Linked DNA regions of Homo sapiens. The protein of the gene in region 1 interacts with the protein of each later gene in a biochemical or structural test. Each region holds a gene or a part of one and is shown in the gene's direction. Other genes may lie near its edges.

What was found.
Region 2: the proteins of PPP1R9A (region 1) and PPP1CB interact in far-western blotting, tested with the Homo sapiens proteins (one study listed by BioGRID).
Region 3: the proteins of PPP1R9A (region 1) and SLCO1C1 interact in a test that uses a peptide from one of them, tested with the Homo sapiens proteins (one large-scale study listed by IntAct).

The regions. Positions count from the first base shown.
Region 1 is NC_000007.14:95,246,461-95,250,118, forward strand, and holds part of PPP1R9A (neurabin-1), read left to right. Parts: intron 1-94; coding exon of another isoform or gene 95-151; exon of another isoform or gene 152-522; intron 523-539; coding exon of another isoform or gene 540-627; intron 628-1,012; coding exon 1,013-1,066; intron 1,067-3,565; coding exon 3,566-3,658. UniProt on the Homo sapiens protein: Binds to actin filaments (F-actin) and shows cross-linking activity. Binds along the sides of the F-actin. May be involved in neurite formation. Inhibits protein phosphatase 1-alpha activity.
Region 2 is NC_000002.12:28,754,742-28,758,399, forward strand, and holds part of PPP1CB (serine/threonine-protein phosphatase PP1-beta catalytic subunit), read left to right. Parts: intron 1-3,658. UniProt on the Homo sapiens protein: Protein phosphatase that associates with over 200 regulatory proteins to form highly specific holoenzymes which dephosphorylate hundreds of biological targets.
Region 3 is NC_000012.12:20,698,282-20,701,939, forward strand, and holds part of SLCO1C1 (solute carrier organic anion transporter family member 1C1), read left to right. Parts: intron 1-1,270; 5' UTR 1,271-1,295; coding exon 1,296-1,424; intron 1,425-3,036; coding exon 3,037-3,178; intron 3,179-3,658. UniProt on the Homo sapiens protein: Mediates the Na(+)-independent high affinity transport of organic anions such as the thyroid hormones L-thyroxine (T4), L-thyroxine sulfate (T4S), and 3,3',5'-triiodo-L-thyronine (reverse T3, rT3) at the plasma membrane.

The DNA.
Region 1 (3,658 bases):
CCTAACAGGATGCTATTTACAGTCTTCATGTACCTCGCTTAGTGGGAATATTCATGTTTGGTGGCAAAAATAATTCATGTGTTTTTGACTATAGAGTGCCTCCAAAGACCCTGCTGTGGATAATAAGCAATTTGTAGAAGATACATCGTAACTACTTTTCTGAAGTTGGAAGAATGCTGACTTCCAAAAACATCTGGCCCCAAGGATTTCAGACAAGAAATTGTGAACCCATAAGTTGTTTTTCTTAAATTTGGGAGTATTTATTGATCCCCTAAGGAAACGAATGATTCGTTCAGTTCCTTCTTCTTCCCTTACAAAGAAAACAAAGCGGGGGGAGGGACAAGCAAAACAAATGTAAACTGTGACTCTTATTGCTAATAAGCTGTGGCAGAAGCTGTTGGGGGTCTGAGTCTTCAAAAGGAGCAGATCTTTTGGAGGACAGAAATCTGGATCTGTACCTTTCCTGCAATTAAAAGAAAAAAATATGTATCAGAGATTTCCCCGTGCAACTGCAGTCCTCCTCCTCTCTCCCTTTGCAGTGGAGCTGCTGATCAGAATGTGCTTGCAACTCACAGGACCATAGCGCCACCTTTCTTGCAGATTTGGAATAAATCTTCACACGTCCAGGTTTGGAATTAAATCACACTATCAGCTCACTTGCCTGTGTATGCCGTTCAGTTAGCTAGACTTAGCAAGGAAACAGTTCCTTGACGCTCAAATCATAAAGGAAGAGCTGCAAAGAGGGCAATAAAAAGTGTTTTCTTCTCTTGGTCCCTGAGCAATTAAATTGGTAACCTAATCTGATGTTAGGGAGTATAGACCATAAACTGTGTTTAATTAGTTTGCACCCAGTGTCATTTCACACAGTAGACACTTTAATTTACAACTTGCTGCACTGCAGCACTTTTCTAGGCCTTTTACTATGTAATAAGGCATTCTTGTAGCTGCTGAGGCTTTACAAATATAGATACACTTTCTTAGTTCAGATTTTTTCTTTCTTTTCAATTTTCAGTTGCAAATCAAACATGCAGTTACAGAAGCAGAGATTCAAAAATTGAAGACCAAGGTAAGCACCGAAACATGGTGTTTGAATTTTACTTTTTAAACTTCAGATACTATGAATAAATCCAATCCTAGGACTAAAGGTTTTGTCCCTGTATATTTGAAAGAATGCAAATGTGATAGATTCATTTTCACTGTCAGGTACGTAGACAAACCTGCCAGTGAGAGCAAACACCCACATCCCCCTCAGTGCAAATAACACAATATTTTAGATATATATATTTATGTATTTGCACATATGTGGCCTCTGAGATTTCCTTAAAAAGTAATATTTTTAATGGTTCAAGTATGCAAAGTATGTTTTGATTACTAATTCCTTAAGCAAAGCTACTATATCTCCTCTTCACTTACCTTATTATAAATAGATTTAATCATTTGTAGGAACAAATTTAGTATAGCACATCAATGTTTTATAAACCATTTCTAATTTCTAATAATTAAATCTTATAAACTTAATACATGCATAATTTAAGTGCCAGGTACTACTGGAAATTTTTAGTTGTTTGGTTCACATAATTTAAATTTGTGGGGGAGAAAAGGTCTTGATAAAAGGGAGTATGTATTATTAGTCTATATATTTTCATTGACAAACTTTAAGGCACTCGTATGAGACACAATTCTAGCAATTTTGTTTAGTTTTATCAAATATACAATTTCAAAGATTTAAAAATATATTTTAAATTACTTTTAAAGCAATATTCTTTATTGTTTCAATGGTCTTTTAAAAATTAAAACATAATTACCCTCCCCCGCCCCCAATCACCACCACCACTACCACTAATGATCTCTTTTGTTGTTCACATTGAACACTTGTTTTGGTTTCTCCGTGTGTTTTAAATGGAGATGAATTAGCAAGGCTATTTTGGTTAAATGCTATTCTCAGCTAATTCACTCTGCAGCTCTTTAGTCAAAATACGACTATACATCATTCACGGTGTTAGTCCAGCTCCGTGAATAATAATTTTAAATTAGTGGCGGTTGCTAAATAAACAACTTGATACAAAACATTGCTTAATAAAAGATGCAGTAAATAACCTATTCCTGTTTTAAATTGTCATTGTCTCTTGACATAGAAAGAATTGAAGATTTTTTAAATTGTTGTTTTAAAAAGATCTCTTTTTCCCTGTGATTGTGTTTTAATGGCGCTTATGTATTAGACTATAGACATTTAACTTAGAAAATACTATAAATTAGCATTTTATATTTTTTCATCATTATATTGGCATGTAATATCCACAGATTAGCACTTTATTATGATTCTTTATTATTCATTTTGATAATAGAATTCCTAATCTTGACATTGTTTTGGATGCTTTCTAACTTTGTAAACTGTTTTGCAAATGTGTTTAGTTAAAAATATTTGCAAAAACATAGATGTGTGTGTATATAAATACATGTTTACTTTTGCTAAGTGCTATATGATTTTGAACATTGATAGTTTATAATGACTTTGCATCCTTTTGAACTTTAAAGAAGGCATATAAAGTAGATAAAGTACCAGTTTGAAGGCCAGAGAGTTATTGGGAATGACTTTTGAGCCCTCACCTAAATGATCAGTATTGGATTTCTGTAGAAATGAGGGTATTAGACTAGTTTACTATCTATTCCTAAGAGTCCCTAGAAGCAGAAAAACAAAAAGCTGGTTATGGCTTTCTGTTCCGTGGGAGGGAATTAAATTAACCAAGCAAAAATTTATACTTTTACTTACACTATCTTTTATATTTTTATGGGAATTGAGGTTTATAAAGCTTGAGAAATTCATTACACTACATGTAAAATAATGAGCTATAGAATATGTTCATGTTCCTTGAAATAAAGAATGAAATAAGATCACCAAAAGGGTTAAAAGCAGAGTGAAAGTGGTTAATGTTTATCAGATGATTCTTATGCCCAAGGAGCTATTTCAAGCATTCTGATGTGTTATATCACAATTCTGTTGTATGGATGATGTAATTGAGTCTTGGAGAACTTCAATTACATGTCCAAGGTTTAATGGCCAATAATGACAGAACTGGGATTCAAATCCATGCTGAATGACTCCAGAGATCCCCTCTTAACCATTAAGCCATACTGTGCTTCTAACTCCTCTCTCCTCCCTGGCCCTCTCCACTCCCTTTTTAGTTAATTTTTTATATATAATTATATATTTTTTAAAAACTCTCAAAACATGTTGACATTCGTTGGATATATCAAACTCTGAAACATCTTTTACTGCTCACAGAATTTCAGATCACCTGGTGTGATGGAAATATCGTGTGAGGTGGAATCCAATCCATGTTTTATCACTTATCAAATGTGTGACCTTGGACAAATCATTTCACTTTTCAAGGCTTCCATTTTATCATCTGTGGAATTATAAAAATAATACCTGCTTTTCTCATCTCAAGTGGATTCAGTGATTGTTTATGATAATAGAACTTGATCTACAACATGCTATAAAAATGAGAGATTTTTGCCACAAAAGTGGCCAAATTATCTTTGCCTTGACGTTTGCTTTCTCCAGCTGCAGGCAGCAGAAAATGAGAAAGTGAGGTGGGAACTAGAAAAAACCCAACTCCAACAAAACATAGAAGAGAATAAGGAAAGAATGTTGAAG
Region 2 (3,658 bases), on another chromosome or scaffold:
TATTAGATGCTAGTTAGTGATATTTTGTAAAGCTGCCTAGCAAGAATAACTATGGTTAGTGTTTTTAGTGTCAAATGAACGTGTAAGTAAAAATTTGGCAAGAATTTCTCTGCATTAGGGGAAAACATTCAGCAGGACCTGATCTCATTTTAAAATGCTGATTGTAGCCCCACAACATATTCCTGATTGTTTTTTCTTTTTTACTGTATTAAATCGCAGATCAGCTATACACACTTCTGGTGACTACATTTTATGAGTTGCTTTTTGTTTTTCTTTTTTAGGTGGGCGTATTATTGATAAGTTTTTTTTGTTTTTTGTTTTTTTGAGACGGAGTTTTGCGCTTGTCACCCAGGCTGGAGTGCGGTGGGGTGATGTTGGCTCACTGCAACCTCTGCCCCTGCAGGTCCAAGCGATTATTCTGCCTCAGCTTCCCAAGTAGCTGGGACTACAGCATGCCACCACGCCCCGGCTAATTTTGTATTTTTAGTAGTTTCACCATGTTGGCCTGGCTGGTCTCGAACTTTCCATCCTCAAGTGATCCACCCGCCTCGGCCTCCCAAAGTGCTGGGATTACAGGCATGTGCCACCGCGCCTGACCTTGATATGATATTTTCAAAGAGTCCTTTAGGTCATTTTAATACAAACATGCCATTTAATGTAAAACAGAAATATTGATTTTATTATTTGGACGGTGCATATTCTTTCGGTATGTTTTCTTGGATTAACTTTTGCTTAGAACTAAAAACCAAAGACTTCTACTTTATCCCCTGTAGTGACCCTGTTGGCCACATTCTTGTGGCTTACCATAGTGTTTTGATCATTTAAATTGAAGCTAGTTTGTATGAGTATTCTGGAAAATCCGGTAAAAGCTTCTTACTTAGATGAGTGGTTCTCAAAGAGGGGTGGGAAATGGGAGTATAGCAGAATCATCTGGGGAACTTCATTCAAACTATAAGTGCTAAGTTTATTTTGGAGGAAGTGAAGTGGAATGAGTAGAATCTAATGCATTTGGGAGGAGGTTAGTATGGAAAACTGCTGCTGGGTGAATAAGAGTGCCAGCTCTGTTCCCAACCACAGTCTTGATCCAGGTATTTAAAAACTGGGATGTGCCAGTTGATATAGTATGTCTATTATGTGTCATATATGTGATAATATGAAACTGTTTAGAATTTGCTTTTTCCTGATTATGAAAGGGCAGCATTCTTTCAAGAAGTCCCCTGTAATTCCACAATCCAGAGATAACCGTTGTTGAAATTTTGATATATTTTTGTTTAAAGATACTTAACATACTTTGTAAAATTCACATGCTTTACATCATTAGAATATTCTTTACATAGCTTTATGAGTTAATTTTTCATGTAGTATTACATCATGAACATTTTCCCTTGTCATTGAAATGTCTTCAAAAATACCGAAAAGCGATTTGCTGTGTGATAGAAAAGTTTTTCTTAAAGTATTTTTTAACATATTACCACGAAGCTGAACTTGACTATTACAATATGAGTTGTAGAATATTAGCACTGTGTAAAGTTCCATAGCAAAATGTGATTGTGTTACATTTTTGGCCCACTTACAGTTTTATGAAAATCGTGGGATGTGTTTGTACCTGTTTTGTTTTTTAAATTCATTTTTCATTTAACTTTGACCTGTCAGATGTCTGAATTTGTGACACTGCTTGTGATCTCTTAGTGCGTATCTCCCTTTTCTTTCTTGTGAAACAGGTATAGTACTCTTAAGATTTAGTTAGGCTGACAGACTACACTTTTAACTTTTCCTATTCAAGACAGGCTGGAATGCAGTGGCTTGATCATGGCTCACTGCAGCCTCGACTTCCTGGTCTCAATCGATCCTTCTGCCTCAACCTCCCTAGTGGATGGGACCACAGGCACATGACACCTTGGCTGGCTAATTTTTTTTATTTTGGTAGAGACGGGGTCTCCCTATGTTGGTTGCCCAGTCTGGTCTTGAACCCTTGTGCTCAAGCAATCCTCCAGCCTTGGCTTCCCAAAGTGTTGGGATTACAGGTGCGAGGTGCTGCGCCCAGCCTGTAGTGTCCTTTTGAAGGTTAAAAAAAATGAATGGATTTGAAAAATGAAATCGATTAATGAAAGCATATTAAAGCCCTCCATTTTAAAATGACAGCTTTATCCAGATATAATTCACATACCATACAGTTTGCCTATTTAGAGGATATGATTTTTAGTATACTATAGAGTTGTGCAGCCATCACCACAGTGAACTGTATAATATTTTCAAACACATATACCCCCCAAAAAACCCTGTTCCCGGTAGCAGACACCCCATTTCTCTCCATTCCCTCCCGGCCCCCACTAATCTACTTTTTTTTGTCTCTTAGATTTGCCTATTCTGGACGTTTCATGCAAGTGAAATCATACAATATGTTGTCTTTTGTGACTGGTTTCTTTTAATGTTTTTAACATTCATCTTTGTTGTAGTATGTATCAGTACTTTATTCCTTTTATGGCTGAATAATATTCCATTGTATGTATACACCACATTTTTAATTCATTCATCAGTTGATGGACATTTTGTTTTCTTTCGGCTATTGTGAATACTTGTAGTGCTGCTATCAACATTTGTGTAGAAGTTTTTTTTTGTGGGCATATACTTTCAATTCCGTTGGGTATATAGCTGGGAGTGAGATTTCTAGGTCATATGGTAGCCCTATGTTTAACTTTTTGATGAGCTGCCAGGTTGTTTAAGGCCTCTTTACTGATTAAATTGTTTAATTCTGACCCAGCAACCTAAAGGTTAGGTGGTTGGAAAGAAGTGTCAGTTGTTGCCGACAACCTCCACTTCTGTAGGGAAGGTGTTTTGTGTGGATGTGCAGCTAGACTTGTTAGAAAAAAGAGCATGTTGGGGAGTGGGGGAGATCACCCGAGGAATATTTTATCTCCTTGATTCTTCTGGATGAGATACTAGAGGAGACATAAGGTCGTGGCATATTTTTTAACTGATTCAGAGATTAGGTGTTTGTTTTCTCTGAATTAAGTTCAGCAAGTAAGGGAAACTGACAGTTTGAAGAAGTAGCCCAGAGGTGTTTTTATTTTGCTATCTGAATGCAGACCTGGAGCTTTTCTGGTAAATATCTAAATCCAAGATGAAGATTCGTTGGGATTTAATACATTATTTAAATTGAGTCTAGAGACAAAGCCACATTAAGAGTCAGGATTAGTGGGGAAGATAGTTGCATCTAGTAGGTCTTTTTCTTCCTTATTCTCCACGTTTATTACTTTTAAAAGAGTATACATTCCAATGCCATGCATTTTTAATTTTTTTTAATTAATTTTTTTTTTTTTTGGAGGCAGGGTCTGGCTCTGTCACCCGGTTGGAGTGCAGTGGCATGAACATGGCTCACCTGCAGCCTCAACCTTCTGGGCTCAAGTGATCCTTCTACCTCAGCCTCACAAGTAGCTGGGACCACAGGCATGCACCACTAATTAAAAAAAATTGGTAGACACAGAATCTTACTTTGTTGCCCAGGCCAGTCTCAGAGTTCTGGGATTACAGGCACCCAGCCCCATTTTCAAACATTTCTAACAGGTAAAGTAATACAGGTATGAAGGAATGTTAAGATTCTTAGAAATACTGACTTAAATTCTGTTATGTATTTCTGAAAGGTTATTCTCGAATGTTG
Region 3 (3,658 bases), on another chromosome or scaffold:
TTTTCAATTAAAAAATTAAAGTTATGAATGCTTATAAAATGAATCCAAAAGCCTAATAATAATTTTTTTGAAACCAGACCCTTGTCTCATCCTTTCCTTTAGTCAATTCCCACTCCCTAGAGGAATCCACTTAATTTTTAAATTGTTGAAGTCCTCTGATGTTTTAACTTCATATTATTAATACAAAGCAAATCGTTTATACTATTACTTGATTTTTCAGTTTGAGAAAGTATGAATTGAAATGGTGAGGGATGAGGTTTAGTGAACACAAAACAAGCATTGCATAAAGTCAAGGTGATATACTCAGTCAGAATAGATTTCTGCCACAATACATGAAATTTGACTCCTAACATTATTCCTTTAGGAATAACATTATTCCACTCCTATTATGTGGATATAGAAGTCCTCTATTAATGTACAATTGGGTCATCTGATAATATTAGGGAGATTGAGAAATACTTTGTTTGTTGAATTCCTTGATTTAGGTTAGATTATCAGGCAGGCACTGAGCCATGTGGAATCCTAAAGAAGTAGGGGCACAGGATATGTAAATATTGATGTGAACAGGGAGAAAATAGGTTCAGTGTGTGATCCTGTCCTGTGAGGGGCGGTGGGAAATTGAGCATGGGAAGCAAGGCTGTCTTTTTTACTTTAAGGCTGATCAAAGACTGTTCTTTCACCTGAATTAAATCTAAGGCACAAATCATGTTGCTCCCTTATTTATCAAACAAAAACAATACACAAATTGGACCTCTTCTTTTTTGTCATATTTTAAGGCTCACATTGGGTGCTACAGGAATCATAAGGTGGTACAGGGACCTATAATGAATGTAAAACTTCTATTTGTTTTGCTAAGAAGATAGATTTAAAGGCTTTAAAGACTTTATCCTAATGAATCAATATTCAAATAGTTGAATTCCTCTTCTTCCTTTCCTGCTTGCTCCTAGTTTAAACTGGCAAGACCACAAAGTTAGCAAAATTCTGCCTCATTATTTATTCCAAAGGCAACACTTAAATTTATTCTTTGCCATAATGAGGCTTAAACTGGGCAGATTGAGAAAGAATGCTGGCTACAGAGTTCCAATAGCAGGATTAGTTAATCAGATATCCTGGTTGATTTTAATTGAAAACATTTGCCAACTTACTGTGACAACAAAAGGTAGATTCACTTTAAATTGCGTCTATAGAATTGTGGTATACTGTTGAATAAAAAAATTTAATAAATTGCGTAGTATTTATTTATTTTTACTTTAAAAACTAACTTTGACAGATCAGAGTCAAGGAATGTGTTTATAATGGACACTTCATCCAAAGAAAATATCCAGTTGTTCTGCAAAACTTCAGTGCAACCTGTTGGAAGGCCTTCTTTTAAAACAGAATATCCCTCCTCAGAAGAAAAGCAACCATGCTGTGGTGAACTAAAGGTAGAGCAACCAAGAAGTAAATAGTGTTGATGCTCTTAGTTTTCTGTCCAGATATCATCTATATAATGAAGTTAGAATGAGAATTGTTTTCTCCTTTAAAAAAAAAAAAAGATCTTAGATGCAATTTACTAAAACCACACCTTGCCAGGCGGTGCAAGCAATCTCTACCTGACCATGTGGGTTAAATTACTTTCCTGGGCTCATTTAAATGCCCCCCCAAACAGAAAAGAGAGAAATAGTAGAAACTAGTATTTATTGAACTTCTGCCATGTGCCAGATATTAAGCCAAGCACAGATATAACATTTAATTTGTGAAACATCACATTACTCCCATTTTGCAAATAAAAATGGGAATAATGTTACAGAGTAGGGAGAAGAGTTGCTTTTTTTTTTTTTTAGGATTGTTGTATCAAACAATAGTTTTTAGTTTTTTGAGGAACCTCCATACTATTATATTTTCCAAAGAGACTACATCAACTTATGTAACCACTAACCATGTACAAAGATTCCCTTTTCTTTACATTCTAACCAGTTTTTATTTTTTGTTATAGCCAACAGATGTGAAGTGATATGTCATAAAGATTTTTATTTGCATCTCCATAATGACTAGTGATGTTGAGCACCTTTTTCATATACCTGTTGGCCATGCCTTCTTTTAAGTAATGTCTATTTAGATTATTTGCCCATTGTTAAAATCATGCTATTTTTCTTTGCTATTTAGTGATAGAAGTTTCTTTTTTTTAATTATTTTTTAATTATTATACTTTAAGTTCTAGGGTACATGTGCACACGTGCAGGTTTGTTACATACGTATACATGTGCCATGTTGGTGTGCTGCACCCGTTAACTCGTCATTTACATTAGGTATATCTCCTAATGCTGTCCCTCCCCGCTCCCCCAATCCCCCGAGAATAGTTGTTTCTTAAGGGATGCTTTGTGTGCTCCTATTCTTTCTTTATACAAATATTCACTCAACAAATCTCTGCTTTTTTCATATAAATGCTAACCTTCCCTATGAATGTTCTATCACAGACCCATGTCTATCAAAATATATAAGCTAGATATCAAAGACATGTTTTCCATTGAGAAAAATATTTGACTATGAATTTAATAAGTATAAACATAAACACAAGGAATAATAGTTGCACTTTTTCAGTCTGTACATTATGTTCCCGGCTGGTGCATGCACCACCCTGTGAAATACATAATCCCAAGTGCTGGACTTGTTATAGGATGTCAAGTGTTTGGCTTATGGTTTCATTTACTTTCTTACCAATGAATGTCTCACCATACACTGACTCTTCAATGTAAGACTCCTTTGAGTGCCCCTCTGGAGCAGAGTGGAAGAAGACAAAAGATAATTCAATACACATTTCGCATAAAAACCAAATATATATTTTAAATTCCAAGAGAATTTGAACTGTTGAAAACTTACAGTGCTTAAGGCTGATGGAAACCTCGAACAGTGTTTGAATTAAAGTTTCAGTGATAATAAAGTTGATATTATACATTGTTCTTTGTTGTTTGTTTTGTATTTGTTTGTCTATTTACTTAGTTTCCAATTGTGTGTCAAGCTGGAGTCAGACTAAGTGTGACCTGTCATATTTTCCAGGTGTTCTTGTGTGCCTTGTCTTTTGTTTACTTTGCCAAAGCATTGGCAGAAGGCTATCTGAAGAGCACCATCACTCAGATAGAGAGAAGGTTTGATATCCCTTCTTCACTGGTGGGAGTTATTGATGGTAGTTTTGAAATTGGTAGGTATTACAGATGCCTGACTTTAATTTTAAGCCCAAGATCTTCTAGGTGTGGCTAAAGAACACCTTCTGCATTCTATTGTCTGCTGGGATCAGACTCTATTCATAAAATCTTTTTTTTTTTTTTTGGACAGAATTTACCATGATCTTATTCTACAGGAGAGGCAATTTTCTCAGAGCAATCAACAGTAAATTTTTCTCCCCAGGTGTTTGGTATTGTATGGTTCACACAATTCAGAGTTCTACATCAGAGTAAGTGACTTTCTTGGAGGAAAGGGTGAGATGCTAATTGGTATTTTGAGTTATAAATATGTAGAAGTATCTTTACAGAAGAACAATACACCCTGGGAGCACTATGATTCAATTTTAGAGGTGTGGAATAATCCAAATGCGCTCTACAAGAATTTACTGCAATGATGAATAGAAGTTACATCATAAAAGGGATTTTTCCACCCAGTGGTCTAGAAAGAAGAATAAAGG